Linked DNA regions of Homo sapiens: region 2 is linked to region 1. A link means that fine-mapping ties the variant in region 1 to the expression of a gene that starts in the linked region. Tissue or cell type: whole blood. Region 1 holds a variant in brackets; the other region holds the start of a gene. All regions are shown on one strand. Distances are from middle to middle.

Region 1 (8,111 bases):
CCGAAAATTTAAACAGCAATTTGTATAGTATTAAATAACTTTGGCCAGGTGCGGTGGCTCACACCTGTAATCCCAGCACTTTGGGAGGCTGAGGCGGGCGGATCACGAGGTCAGGAGATCAAGACCATCCTGGCTAACACGGTGAAACCCCGTCTCTACTAAAAATACAAAAAATTAGCCGGGCGTGCTAGTGGGCGCCTGTCCCAGCTACTCGGGAGGCTGAGGCAGGAGAAGGGCCTGAACCCAGGAGGCGGAGCTTGCCGTCAGCAGAGATCGTGCCACTGCACTCCAGCCTGGGTGACAAAGCCAGACTCCGTCTCCAAAAAAAAAAAAAAAAAAAGAAAAAAAAAGAAAAATAACTTTATTAGAAAGTCAATTTTAGATCATAAGTGATCTAGCTTATATACCTAAAATCTAAAAAAGTTGAACGCATAGAAGCAGAAAGTACAATGCTGGTTTCCAGGGTGTGACAGGGAGGAGGTGGGGAGATGTTGGTCAGAGGATACAAAATTTAAGTTGAAAAAAAAAGGCAAGTTTTTAAAAACCAGTTATTTGGACTTTCTGGATATGATGTGTATGATGTACATGTATTTAATTGCCATACTCCCTTCCTAATAGTTTCAGACTCCTACTTAAATGACTGAAACAATATTTATTAAAATAGAGAAAATCTACATAGTCCTATTATTTGAAAGGGGTCATTGCGTGCCAGAAACTTTTCATAATTCCTGAAAACAGAGCTAAAACAAGATTGAGAAAATCAACAAAAATTCCTAACTTGCAATGCACTGTGAAAACAAGAAACCTGGGAAACAAATAGACAAGACCCTAGAAAAACCTCCCTGTAAACTTCTCTGTCTTTGGCTACAGCGGGTTGAGACACAATTTGAGGAGCAAAGCTCAATTCCCTTAGTATGTCAGCAAGCTCACTAGTATCCTGGAACCAGGCCTCAGCAATCTTGCCTCCACTTCGTGGATGCGCCAGGTTAAAGGTGGAAACAAAATTGATTGTTGGTTAAGAAGCTCATGTTTCCTTGGCTAACTTCAGTATACGGCAAAAACCAGGAGAAAGAAAATCTTTAGCACAGAGGTGAAGTTCTGAGCATCACCTTTATTATCTTGTAGTAAATATTAACTGCAAACAATATTAACTGTTACCCTCCTCCCTCCTTTGTCCGACTTTATGATTAGTCTCCTCGGCAAATCTGTAAACTTCCTGGAACAGGGACATTGTCTACATTGTTCACAGTTGTATTCCCAGTGCCTCCCAGCACAGTGTCTGGCTTTAGTAAAAAGCTCAAAATTGTCTATTGAATTAACATTGAACATATTTATCTGATCAGGAAATGGAGTAGACCTCTTAAGTCATACATTTAAATACAGCCATTATAAAAGGCCAGAGAAAACAATTTGCCTAAACAAAATTCCAAATTTTATAATTCACAGAGGATCACGTATTTATTTTAAATTAATCTGGGAAGTTTGAAAAGTCTTGCAACTTTGTAAGTAATTTAAAAATCATTCTTTTTGGCATCAAATCATTCCCACAAATCAATTCTAATTCCAAGTATTGAAAATGTGGCTAAGGCATAAGCAGGCAATTTGTCATAAAGAAGAAATACAAATGTCCTGTAAAATTAAAATCATTTTAACTCATTAGCAATATACAAAACCTGAATGAAAACAAGTTAATCTTCTACATTTGCTAATTGGCAAAAGTTTGCTACAGATGTTAATGTTCAGTGTCACAGAAAACATAACCAAACAACTCCCTTCGTACACTGCTGGTAAATACACAAGTTAGCATCATCTTTACGGACAGAAAAATGCATACACAAAATCTAAAAATAATTGTTTTTTACTCCTTCTCCTAGCAATTGTACTCAAATAATTATGAGGATTTTTCAACCAGCATTTTTTAATGATAGTGGATAACTGAAAAACATCTCAAAATCCAAAATATATGGATTAGTTAAATAAAGTGCATTAATTCAATACAATTTTTGCAGCTGTGATGCTTTAGAAAATTTAATGCCTGGGGAAAGGACAGCTATATTGTTAATTGGCAAGAAGTTATAAAACAGCATGATGCCAGATATATGAATGATACCTTCTGCAATATCAGCAGCAATAACTCTGAAGTCTCAGATTAGGAATATCATGCTTCTCCCTGATTATTCATGACTAATGATTCTTTTCTTCCATGTAGATTAGGAATATCATGCTTTTCCCTGATTATTCATGACTAATGATTCTTTTCTTCCATGTAGATATTGTATTATAATAAAACATGAATACATTTTACTAAGATACAAATAATAAAAAGTAACAAAACTCATTTTATCTTACACATTGAAACATGAAATTCGTTTAAAAGTATTTCTTAAAAACAATGCCGTATCTTCATAGGTGTTTATTTTAACTTAGCTTGCTGTTTGTCAAAGGCTAGACTCAAAATTTCCAAACGTTTAAGACAGAATTACTTGTTCTTGAAGAGAGGGTACCTCAGCACAGAGAAGGAACATAGGTCTTTCTCTGTGACTTGATAGGATTCTGTTTCCTTATTAATAAATTGAGAATGGCAATAAGAATGGCTAGTATTTGTCAACCATGTACTGCTGACCAGGCACTGTTCTCAGTGGCTCACCTATATTAAGTAATTTAATCTTCAAAACAGCTCTTTGAGGTAGGTACTGTCATATATAATGTGTATATATATACTTTTATATATGTGTAAATATTAAATATATATGTTCACATAAATATAAATTATATATCCTTATTTTACAGATGAGAAAACTGAGGGGTTAAGACACTTGCCCATGTTCACACAGTTACTCAGTCTTGCTTGAAGCCTGGGCTCTTAACAATGTGTTTTGTCTGATGGAGATCTGAGGAAGATTACCTGAGACATGAAATATGTGATGCCTATTTTTGTACCTAGCACATAGTAGGAGTTTGTTACAGAGTAACAGATTATTTAAAAGATTATTTGTAATTCCAGCCAGCTCATTTGATACCAAATTACTACAGCCTATGTTTCTAGGAGTGGTCAATGGAATTATGCTAAAATAGTATTTTTCTTGCTTGTTTTATATTTTATAAATCGCTTTCCAGCACTGAATCTTTAAAATCTTTTATTTTCAAGTATCTCTTGAATCTCA[A/G]AAATCTATTTTCTTTTCCCTGCTGACTGATCCTGGTCCCAGGAACTGAGGTTGCAGATAAGTCATGTTACAACAGGAATGAAGGTGGGTCAAAGTACGGGTACTGTCGCAGAGTGGATGACACACTCATTCCCTGCAAAGCAAAGTAAGTGGCCTTGTCTGAACCTTCCTGCTTCACAGACTAGAGCAATGGTACACTTCCAGCTACACATTCTGATTTATTCCAGTTAAAGGGAAAGTGCATTTGGTCATCAATCATTTGACAAACATTTATTGAGTAACTACTATGTGCCATGATGTGGGCTAGGTACCGAGTCTAAAACAACAAATAAGAAATGGCTTCTTTCTTCAAGTATCTCATGGTGGGTGCTTCAGATGACACAAAGCACAGTCATTGTTGGGTAGAATGAATGGTTGTGATGGAACATGCCACAAAGAATGGGTCTGGTTAGAAATTTGTCCAGGGATTTCCCAGTATAAATCAGATGCTTTCTCAATCTCATGTTTTTCCTTGTAAGATTCAGAGTAGAAATATTTATCTACCCAGAGGAATAACAGATGCAGTGCTTGAACAGTTTTTTAAACTTTCAGTAGAATTACATAAAGAAAAAATACAATATGAAAATATTGACAATTCATCTGAAGAGTTTGTTAGTTTTAGTACTGATATCCGGGAAAACACTATAGAACAGCACACCAGAAGAACTTGGGATTTTTCTATGGTTTAATTCTGCAATTTTGAGATGAGTTTTAAAATCCAATTATAGATTAAACTCTTTGTACCTGCTCTAAATTTTACACATACCAAATAATATATAACAAGAGGTTGCACAAGATCAACATTTCCCAAAGTTTGTCTATTGGACACGAATTTCTCTGAATGACAGGTATTACCAAACTATACTTTGGATATAGGGTTATCTCTTGGGAGAATCTGTGCCTAAAGAACAATCATTTTCGGTGGTCTTGTGGTCTCTTCTTTATAGGAAACCAGGGCAGATTCAAAAGAGGAAATTATGTAAAAGGCAGTATGTGAGGGCCAGAGGAAGGGCAATTGTAGGTGGTGAATGGGAAGAGAGTGGGTCTCGCCATCTTTCCTTTGCAGTCTGTGCACACAACAGTGTCCCATATAACTCTTTGCATGAGCATTAGTTTCTGTGCTCTAGTGGCTCAAGCAGCTCCTTCACCCCACAAACTACCCTCCTAGTCACTTCTCAGTAGTCATTGGCTATAGTGAAGAGTTAGCCTGAAATTCCCTGTGCCCTAAACCATCCTTTATCGCTTTACCTAAGTGATTCAAGAAAAACACACTCTCATATTTTGAGAGAATATATGCCTTTCTCCACTCCTCAAACATATTTTCTACAGCCAAGAGAGATCAAAAAATCTGATGCCATCACTTTCTGGATACTTTTTTCACAGCCCTCTTCCGAATTCTACATAAAGCAATTGACTTCCATTTTATTGTCTTTTAGTCCTGTTGGCAGTAAATGAATGGCTTGAGTGAGTGTTGAGCAGTTTAATCTGCACCTTCAGGGAGACAGTTCTTTTAGTAACTCCACCTGATGCCTTGCAGTGTCAAGGGAGGCTCAGCTTTGTTCTGACAGCATTATAGTGGAGACTTGGGCTTTCTTTTGGTGGAATTATTCTGCAGCCAGTTGTACAAATAAATGAGTAACCTATCTGAAACAAGCTAGAAATTGATGTCTCAGATGCCTCCATGATGTTAGGAATCCATGTTTTATCCTCTAGCTCCATCATCCACATGACTTTCATTTCCATGTGTTTCTCTAGGCCTATGATAGCTTCTCTAGCTATCATACTCCAATCAGCAAAAAATGAGAAAATGTTGAGAAATAGAAGATAATTCCTCATTTAAGGCCACCTTCTAGAATTTGTGCTTAAGATTCTGTTTTCTTCTCATGGGCCAGCACTTCGGCAACTGGCAAAAATTAGGTGTACAGGGATCTAGGTAATACTGTTTATTTGAGCAATAATATATTGTGCTAACGTTCAGGCATCCTATTACTGAGAAATAAGGGAAAATGAGTGTAAAGTACAACTAAGAGTCTCGGCTACAGGGAAAAATACCATCAGTTAAATATCCATAGTCCTAGAGCATTTATGTAAAACTGCAATTTGAATCCTGCAATACATTTTGGCTTTTTCCTCAGTGATACCATGTGTGGGAAGTTGTTCTGTCAAGGTGGGTCGGATAATTTGCCCTGGAAAGGACGGATAGTGACTTTCCTGACATGTAAAACATTTGATCCTGAAGACACAAGTCAAGAAATAGGCATGGTGGCCAATGGAACTAAGTGTGGCGATAACAAGGTAAGTTGAAATTGTGGCTTTCACTCAAAATAGTGTTTTTTACTTTGGTGTGCTTTGTTGTTTTGCCCCTCGGTTATTCACTATGTGCCTTGTTTCCCGATTTTGGGGTTCGCCATGCCTTAATAGAACCCACAGAGTTTGAATTTGGAACACAGAAATGAAAATGGCGCAGAACCTAGTAAATAGCAGGAATAAGCACTGACATTAACATTCTCAAACACTGTGGTGAAATTTGGAAATAATTGACTCTCATAGTCATTATTTCAAGAAGAGTATCATATCGTCATGCAGATAACACACAGTAGCATCCGTTTAACTTTCATAGACGAAGTCTGAAAACTCACTGAAAGTGCCAGTGTATGTGATACTGGGCTTCATTTAACAGATCTGTATATCATTAATAATATAATGAACTTAAATACGAGTACTGTTTAGCCAGGGCCAATCAATTCACGAACTTTGACCATGAGGTTTGTCTCTCTTAAGAGATTAGAATTACCCTCTTTATATATTCACTAAGATATCCACATGACCAAAGAGTTCCCCTGATTTTTCACTGTGGTAAAGCCAATCCTCAGAATATTATCCTATTTACTTAAACTGATTTGGCTATTTAAATATTAATTTATCCAATGATGAGTCCAAAATTATCTAAGTGGTTCAGTGTGGGTATTGCTTATACGTGGTCTCTGAACCCCTGGAGCTGAAAATAAAAATTTAGCAATGTTTATAAATCTGCTGATTTGACATTAAAATATTAGGTCTTGCCTATAAGAAGTACCCACAGTATTTAAACTTATTCTTTTCCCCCATTTTTCCTGAAACATATGCTAGCATCAAGGGCAAGGAATTTTATATAAAATATAATATTTAACTGCGTTTTCCAGGTTTTACTAATTTCCTTGTATTTTCTAGTGCTGAAGCCTTTAAAGACATTGAGACATTATCACATGACCTGGCATGGATGTTGCAGTGCTTGGGCCTTAAGGGAGGGAAGTACTGGGACTAGGGCAGAATTGAGATGTTTCTGGGTCCCCTGGCATTAAGATCATCTCATTATTGCTTATCCCTTAACTTCTTGCATAGTCATTGCTTCTGGGATATACAGTTGTTTGGATTTTTAAAAATACATAAATTCTTAGATAGACTTTATCAACCTTTTTGGGTTGGTTTAACTAAGAGGATAATGTAAGCAACAGAGCCCGTCTCTGTTTCCCTTCTTCTACATCAGCCTCCTGGCAGAGCCACCTTAAACAACATCTGCTAGCCTCTTCACACAGACCTCAACTTTCTCATCTACGTTCAGAGAAGATGAAGCTTCATGTTTTCTACATCACTTTCAGGTTTGCATTAATGCAGAATGTGTGGATATTGAGAAAGCCTACAAATCAACCAATTGCTCATCTAAGTGCAAAGGACATGCTGTAAGTTCTGAAAATATGTTTCCCTAAGCTCTCTGAATCTTATGACATTCTAGGTCAGTCATAAGAAAGCTAAAGGAATATTTTCAGCTTTAAATGATGATAATTACTAAGTTTATCCAAGCCTTCAGTAGCATGGTTCAAGGAGAAATTTCTTCTGGGAATCATTCATGAAATGCCTCTCATTCACTCATACTTTTTGTAGATAGATGGAAGCCTGGAGACTGGGGTTATTCCTTTTTCTGCATGAACTTTATTATGGATGAGTAGGGCCTTGAGTTTCTGGTCAGCCTAGCGGGGACAGTAACAGGATCATTGCTCCCCTAGGTGTGTGACCATGAGCTCCAGTGTCAATGTGAGGAAGGATGGATCCCTCCCGACTGCGATGACTCCTCAGTGGTCTTCCGTAGGTAACATTACACATCTAACCTGAGAAAATTGCTCTCCTCTTCCAAGCCTTTATTTTGTATTATATGAGATTTCACTGCTTCTTTTCTCTGTTCTTGAAATTTCTGTTCTGTTGATGTTGAATCCACAATATTTATCCCCCAAATCTCCTTAATACCTTTTAATTATATTTTCCGTGTCTTCATTTTCACTGCACATGCAAAAAAATTTCCTCAACCTTTATATTTGTAATCTTATTTTAATTTCACAAATTTTCTTACTTTAGGACTCTTCCATTTTCATAGCAGCCTCAAGTTAATGGAAAAATGTAATATCCTCAAAACTCTCTAAGAATATGACCTATTATTTTGTATGTTCAGTTCTATTCTTTGAATTATCTGTTTCTTTTGAGTTGGTTTGTTCTGTTGTCACCACGTCACTTGTATTCTGTTGTACTAGTTTTCTTCAGGATATGTGATCCTTAGTTCAATGTGGAATTGGTAGAGCTGGATTAGTTCACACGGGATGTCTCTGCATTTGTGTGTGCTGTTGTACCTACTGATATTTCTCTTGATGGGGGAATCTGGCTGGGAGCTCTATGGGCAGGTAGGCAGGTCTGCCTATAGGTCTTCAGGGTGGGAAGGAGCCAGAGTGGGGACCCACCTCCAGTTGTTACGAGGAACATTTTACCCTGAGGAGGGAGCTCATCACCACATTTTCTCCTGAGAGAGCTGCTTTTTCTCATCATCATCTCATTGACGCTCCCCTCTCTGTCTGATATAGTGTAGGTATCTAGAGGAAGCCT
Region 2 (8,111 bases), 46 kb before region 1:
TTTGAGGACTTAAGTCATAAATTGTTTCCAGGGCCAATGTCCAGAATGTCATTTCCTAGGTTTTCCATAGTTTGAGGTCTGACATTTAAATCTTTAATCCATCTTGAGTTAATTTTTGTATATGGTGTAAGGTACCGGTTTTCTGTTTCTGCATTAATTCACTTAGGTTAATGGCCTCTAGGTGATCCATGTGCTGCAAAGAACACAATTTAATTCTTTTTTATAGCTGCATAGTATTCCAAGGTATATATGTACCACATTGTATTTATCCATTCCACCACTGATGGGCACCTAGCTTGATTCCATGTCATTGCTCTTGTGGATAGTACTGTGATGAACATAAGCATGTGTCTTCTCGGTAGAATAATTTATTTTCTTTTGGCTATATATCCAGTAAACGGATTGTTCGGTCAAATGACAGTTCTGTTTTAATTTCTTTGAGAAATCTCCAAACTGCTTTCCAGAGTGGCTGAACTAATTTACATTCCTACCAACATTGTGTGTTTCCTTTTCTCTGTGGCCTCACCAGCATTTGTTATTTTTTGACTTTTTAGTAATAGCCATTTTGGCTGGTGTGAGTTGGTACCTCATTGTTTTGATTTGCATTTCTCTGATAATTAGTTATGTTGGGCAATTTTTTCACATGTTTTTTTAACTGCTTGTATTTCTTCTTTTGAGAAGTGTCTGTTCATTTCTTTTGACCCTTTTTTTTTTTTTTTTTCTTTTTTTTTGAGACGGAGTCTTGCTCTGTCACCCAGGCTGGAGTGCAGTGGCGCAGTCTTGGTTCACTGCAACCTCCTCCTCCGGGTTCAAGTGATTCTCCTGCCTCAGCCTCCCAAGTAGCTGGGACTACAGGTGCCTACCACACGTGGCTAATTTTTGTATTTTTAATAGAGATGGGGTTTCACTATGTTGGCTAGACTAGTCTCGAACTCTTGACTTCAGGTGATCTGCCCACCTTGGCCTCCCAGAGTGCTAGGATTACAGGCATGAGCCACTGCACCCACCCTTTTGCCCATTTTTAAATGAGGTTACTTATCTCATGCTTGTTCAATTGTTTAAGTTCTTTATAGATTCTGGATATTAGACTTTTGTCAGCTGTGTAGTTTGCTCATATTTTCACCCGTTATGTAGGTTGTTGGTTTGCTCTGCTGATAGTTTCTTTTTGCTCTACAGAAGCTCTTTAATTTAATTAGGTCCCACTCATCCATTTTTGTTTTCATTGCAATTGCTTTTGAGGACTTAAGTTATAAATTGTTTCCTAGGGCCAATGTCCAGAATGTCATTTTCTAGGTTTTCCATAATTTGAGGTCTTACATTTAAATCTTTAATCCATCTTGAGTTAATTTTTGTATATGGTGTAAGGTAGGGGTCCAGTTTTATTCTTCTGCATATGGCTAGCCAGCTATCCCAGCACCATTTATGAAATAGGGAGTCCTTTTCCCAGGACTCCTGCCACCAGGATGCACTCCCTGCCCTGTTTGGTGTAGACCTCTGACTTCTATTGATAAATCTATTGTAACACTAAACACCTTGTGATATTGTGATCATTTATAGGTGGTACTCACTCTGTGCAATTTTATGGTAATTGAACTTATCTTTGTCAGATTGTGAACATCTCAATGAAAGTGATTGTGTTTTTTGTTTGTTTGTTTGTTTGAGACACTGTCTCGCTCTGTTGCCCAGGCTGGAGTGTGTTGTTGCAATCTCAGCTCGCTGCAGCCTCTGCCTCCTGGGTTCAAGCAATCAAGCAGTTCTCCTACCTCAGCCTCCTGAGTAACTGGGATTACAGGTGACCACCACCACACCCAGCTAATTTTTTTTTTTTAGTAGAGATGGGGTTTCACCATGTTGGGCAGGCTGGTCTCAAATTCTGATCTCAGGTAGTCTGTCTGCCTCAGCCTCCCAAAGTGCTGGGATTACAGACATGAGCCACCACTCCCGGCCATGATTGTGTTTTTTCAACTGCAATCTCAGTGTCTGACACATAATAGCTGTAAGTAAAATTACGTTGAATTAATGGAGAAAAAATATGTAATAATTAAAAGTTGAAGTATCCTTTCTGTTCCCTGGAAAAGACAAAGCAATGGAACTTGGGTTGAAAAGGCAAGAAATCTGTGAATCGCAATCCTGATGGTTAAAATGCTCAGTAACTAGACTCAAAAATTCCTTTGTGGTTTTAGTTGATGACTGTATAATCATTTGGAGACATCAATAATCACTGTAATCCCTCTAGTATGAGAATGTGTTTCAGAATCTGTAAAATGATGCATGATTTTAGTGGACTAGGACTAGGTTTTGTGGTAATAACTGGTCCTCAGCGTAATTTCTATTCCTTAGGAATTTCATAATTATTTCTATTCTCCCAGAATCTTTTCAATAGAAATGATACTGGGAGTACAAGTCAGCTAAGCCAAGGGAAAGCATTAGAGTATATGACTAAGAGCCCAGACAACACATAGTTCAGATTCCACTTCTACCACTTACTGGATAGGTGACTTTATCTGCTTAATCTTCTTAATCTATACAATGAGGGGACAACTGATTCTTAATCTTTTGAATTTTGCCTTTAAAACCCCAAATTTTCACCTGCAAAATGATTGTAAATGCATAATACATGAGTATCATAAAGACTAATAAAATAACAAGTACAGTAGATTTAGGAGAGTACCTGTATTAGTCCATTTTCATACTATCACGAAGAAATATCTGAGACTGGGTAAATTAAAAAGAGGTTTCATGGCCTCACAGTTTCACATGGCTGGGGAGGCCTCACTCTCATGGTAGAAGGTGAAGGAGGAGCAAAGACACATCTTACATGGAGGCAGGCAAAGAGAGCCTGAGCAGGGGAACTGCCCTTTATAAAATCATTAGATCTTATGAGACTTATTCACTATAATGAGAACAGCATGGGAAAAGCCCGCCCCTTGATTCAATTATCTCCCACTGGGTCCCTCCCACAACACATGGGGATTATGGGAGCTACAATTCAAGATGAGATTCAGGTAGGGACACAACCAAACCCTATCAGTACCTAAAACTTAATAAGCAGCTCAGTTGATATTAGTTATTTTATTGGTTATAAGTATGATTTTTAGACATGCCCAGTTTAGCCTTACTACCACCAGTGACAGATCCTAAAATTGTATCCTTTGGGTCTTGAATCCTTCTTCCACACTCCTCATTGCCAGTTATGACACAAATACCCCCAAGGATCTAAAAATTATTGTGCTTATATTGTCAGACATTCTTATTTCAGGATAGTTCAAACTTCCTGAGAGTACACTTGTGTGAGGAATAGAACATAAAATAATGGAAAAGAGAATGCTATATAGTAATTAGGTTGAATTAGAAATTGCTTTACATAACCACATTATGTATGTGGGGGAAAAATAACATTCTTAATAACTTTTTTCCTACAACTGTATATATATAAAAATATATTTAAACATATATTTATATATCATATCCGTAATGTAAATAAATGTCTAGCATGTTTTTCAAGACTCATTAATGCAGTTGCCTCTTTCCTTGTAGCTTATCTGGCTATAGTAATATGTTGGAAATGTACTACTTTGGAGTGGGGAGTATGGCAAAGGAGAGCAAAACAATAGTTCAGATCAAGTAATCTTAGAGCCAGGAGGCAGCCAGGACTTCCGCCTGCTGGGCCATTGTTGCAGGACCACAGCTTCGAGGTTGCGCAACACCTTTAGTAAACACTTCCTGAATCAGAGACAAGAATGAACCAGGGAGTTTCATTCTGTCTCACTGGAGAGGAGGCAGGGACAGACCCAGCAGCACCCACCTGAGCGAGAAGAGCAGACACCGTGCTCCTGGAATCACCCAGCATGTTGCAAGGTCTCCTGCCAGTCAGTCTCCTCCTCTCTGTTGCAGGTACATATTTAGCTCTTTTTCAGGTTCTATTGAATGCATTAGCGAACTTTTCATAGTCTCCTAATAGTTTTATTGTATAAACTATTTTGACTTTTTTCTTTTTCTTTTTTCTCAATCAATCTTACTAACCAGTTGGGCTGGTTTTAACCTGTTGTTTGGGGGCTGCGAGTGATACAAAGACAATGTTAAAAAGAGGCAACAAGAGGTCTTGAACCAATATGTATGCATCTCATCTGAGAATATACAGAAATAAAAGGGACAATTTCATACAGCACAATTTAAATCATGAATATGATTTTTGACTGAAAAAGTGGAATTCATCAAAACCCAGCTTGTCATTTAAAGAATGGTAAAGATGTGGCAGATTTATTTATTTATTACTGTGTACAAGGCTTAGGAAAATACCTACTATTATTATGGGAGCCAGTTTGGCTCTTTCTGTTTGAGTGTATATTTTTGTATTTACTCATTATTAGTAATAATACGTGTGACTAACTGGAAATAATTAATATTTTTTATTTATAAGGTACTGTGATATTACTTAACAAAATATCTCTGTTAAGCTTAAATTGATAATTTACTTCTATTTTGCTGATTATACCAAACATTTAAAAATTTGAAAGGAGAAAAATACTACTTCCTAACAGGAAATTATGTCTAGCAAGTCTCTCAATTTCTGGTAAATTCTCTAATTAGACTTTGGTTAAATTAGATTGGGTATTGTGATTCTTCAGCTTCTATTTCCAGAGCTTATTTAACTCAGCACATGAACTGCAGTGCCTCGAATTCCTCCCAGTAAACCTGTTCTTGGGTCTTAGAATGTTTGCTGGGACCTGGGGATGGGAACAGATTATCAACTAGAGGTATGGGCTTAGGGAGGGAAAAGTTTTCCTTGTCCATGCACCCTCTTAGTACTTTGTTGCTAAAAATGATTTTCCTGTGTCTCACCTGTTTCTGATTTGTTTTCAAGACTTATAAAAATTTCACTTAACCTAATATCTTTAAATATCGAATTATTTTCCTTTTGTTTCTGTGTATTTTTGCTTTATATAATATGTACCTATATCTGAACTGAACCTTTTCCCACTGTGCTGTGATCCTCTTCATCTCTAATGCCTTTTGCTTTGATACCTATTTTGTCTGATGTGAACGTGTTACACCAGCTTTCTTTTGGTAAAATAAGCCTGAAATATTAAAAATATATATAAAACTCATGCCAGGCATTTAACATTGACCTGAAATTCCTACTTTTTGAGGCAGACTTAATAGAAATGTTTTTTTCTCTCCGTTCTCCAAAAATGCTATCACCAAGAGCTTTTCCAGAACCCCCTCTAAGCTGAAATACAAGAACTGCTTGGGCACTAGCTTAGTTGAAGAGCGTAAAGATCAAGCTGGATCCATTAACAGAGTCACATGGCTAACACTGGGGCCCATGCACATTACAGTCCTTTTGTGCAACTGGGCACACTAATCAGTTCTGCTGCCCCGACGGTGCATGTATAACATGGCACCAAGAGATGCAACTTCCTCTGATGTCAACTCTAAAAGTGTGATGTCACCCCTCCTTTAACTTCTAGCTTCTATTTTTAAGGGTGTCTTTTTGCCACTGAACTATCCCTGTTATGATTCCCATTTGGGTTGCCTTTCTAGTCAGAATATAAGAAGTAAAGCAATTTTCATTTCCCAGTTCTTCCTGTTTGTTCTCTGCCCCCATCATCAAAGCAATACATATGTGCCCCTCTGACCATGACTTCTGCCCAGTCCCCAGATGGTTGAAATAAAAGAAAGAGATGTAAAATAAGGCTGGTTGTGTGCAGTGAACTTCACAATCCCGAGAAAAAATTGACTTATGGGATTTCATCCTAGGAAAAGGAAAAACAAATATTTAAAAGGATGTGACAGGTGTTTGCGGGGTGAAGATGTAAATGATTGCATCAACAAAGGAGAAAGGTGCTTACCTTATTACAGCAGAATACTCAGGGGGTACAGCACTTTTTGAAATTATTTTATTTCAAACTACCAGTTCTTCCTTGCCTTTATAAGGTAACTGGAAGACTGAAAAGAAAATATACAGTTTAATCTAAATAGTCAAAATAACAGACCTAATAGAAATGCAGTTTTTTCCCTTTTGTTTGTACTCACTTTTAATGCATGAAGTTTAAAACCACAAGATGGTTTGAGGAGATGCAGAGAATCCCAGGACATAAGTCAATATCCTTGTGTAAACCCTAATTCAGCGTTTAATATGATGTGTTCAGTTTGGAAAGAAGACATTTCTTTGAACAGTTTCAAACACATTTGAACGAAAATGAAAATGTCAATATTACATACTCATGTTCCCATTTCCAAAATGACCCCAAACACATGAACAAATAATGTAGCAATCCAGACTAATGTCTCTCATATTAACGTTGTTAATGAGCTTTGGCTTTTCTAAGACTCAAAACAGTCAAAAATAATTATCCCATCTAAACCAAAATAACAGTTTTCTTTTTCCTGATCTGGTTTTGCTAGTCAAGACTAATCCAGTGTGTGAGTTCTGTGGGAGAGAGAAGGCAAGTATTAAAATGAATTAGTAAAAACATATTGTGTTACACCTTGGATTTGTGTAATCCCTGGATGGCAGTTAGTTGTGTTTGTTCCTCAGGCTTCAAAAATAATTAACGTGATGTTATTCAGTGGGGAAGACGCTGCACCATTTCCATTAAACTTAAGGATGGATGAGCTAAACAATATTTAGGTCTGTTACATCCCTACAATGGCTGTGTAATTTGTTGTATTCCAGATCCCATTATTTCAGGGACTTCTAGGTTTCCAGAAAATAAGAGCCTTTAAGAGAAATTCCATTTAGTTTCTTTAGAGAATATATGGAGTGACAGGAGTTTGGAAGGAGCTGGAATTCCATTCACTTCAAACTGAAGAGATTGAGAGGTTGCCAATGATTTCTAAAAGAAATGTTGTGGGTTTTTTTTTGTTGTTGTTGTTGTTTGTTTTATTTTGCTTTGTTTTTGGTTTCCATTTGGAAGTGTTCGGCCACCAAAAAGTTGGAAATAAATTACATAACTTACATATTTTAAGCCCATATTTAAGAGCCAGTTTGCAATTTCTAATTTCATGAAACATTGGGATTCAGATACTAACTAGAAGCATAGAGGTCAGGGTGCATGTGAGAGAAAATTTGTGTTGGCTAGATGAGCCTGTTTTCCTTCTTACCATTTCTGAATGGTGCTGAGAAGGAAACTCACTTCATTTTCTGCTTTTATACAAAAAATCGGGAACGTAGCTATTATTTTATTCCACGAAGGCAGCTTGGACTACTATTTCCTGTTAGAATCATGTGTGTTCTAATATAGCATTTAAAAAGATTTATGTTGGCTGCAACATTGGTGAAATTTGGCTTCTTGAACTCTCTATCTTAACAAGACTAATTGCATTGATTAGCTACTGTAATGTACCAGGCAGCACGTGGGTGCCTTATGGTATGCTTGTTTTGTGTCCCTGAATTAAGGAGGCAGCAGGGAATTGTGTCAATATCATCAGTTAATTTCTGGCAGGAGTAATTTTCTTACCTCTTGGCATCTTAGTGTTTCAAAATAATTACAATAATTAGAAAAATTTTAACTCAGAAAAAGAATCATCAATTTTTCTTTAGGTTTTTGAACTTATGTTTCAAAAATTTTTTATAATTGATGTTATTCTTTTCCTTTACCAAAAGTTAATTTAATAGAAATAAAAGACGCCCAGCGATTACCTCTGTGACAGCAAGAAATGAGGAACTGAAGAACCCCGTGATGTTGTTCTTGAAGTGTGACAATGTAATGAGGCTTATTTTATCACATTGGATCAGAATTCAGTTATCCTAATGATCACTGACTCTTGAAAGAGGTTATAGGGGATTCTGTACTTGTATGCATAAATCATAAACCACTTGAACTAGCTTTAGAAACCATTTAATTGGCGTCCTTTTTTCAAACTATTTAAAGACTCAAACCAAATAAAAAAAATAAGGTATTCTAATGTCAGTGCCATGGCTTTAAGTAATTTTGAATTTTTTTTTAGAGTAACTCTTACACCACTGAAAGAAAAGATAGTTCATTACTTTAACACCCCATTTTTGACTCAAAGAGTTCTTAGCTGGTTTAAACCCTTTTTCTGTTCTTCAAAGTTAAATGTAAGTGACTCTTGAGTCGTTAAATGAATTAAAGTCATTCTCGAGT

The links. PIP is the estimated chance that this variant, and not a neighbour inherited with it, causes the effect.
Region 2: ADAM28 starts here. The variant in region 1 is fine-mapped to the expression of ADAM28 in whole blood (TOPMed, PIP above 0.99).

Annotation. Positions count from the first base shown.
Region 1 is chr8:24,336,260-24,344,370 of GRCh38, forward strand. It overlaps ADAM28 (ADAM metallopeptidase domain 28), which reads left to right. Exons shown (of 23, transcript NM_014265.6): 15 at 3,207-3,309; 16 at 5,339-5,498; 17 at 6,842-6,922; 18 at 7,247-7,325. All of the region lies in intron 3 of ADAM7-AS1 (ADAM7, ADAMDEC1 and ADAM28 antisense RNA 1), which reads right to left. Among named protein-coding and RNA genes, the nearest start is that of ADAMDEC1, 44 kb to the right of the region's middle. The variant A/G (reference allele first, on the strand shown) is at 3,165.
Region 2 is chr8:24,290,302-24,298,412 of GRCh38, forward strand. ADAM28 (ADAM metallopeptidase domain 28) reads left to right here and starts at 3,768. Exons shown (of 23, transcript NM_014265.6): 1 at 3,768-3,894. The coding sequence starts at 3,849. ADAM7-AS1 (ADAM7, ADAMDEC1 and ADAM28 antisense RNA 1) reads right to left here. Exons shown (of 6, transcript NR_125808.1): 5 at 5,853-5,949; 6 at 5,513-5,756.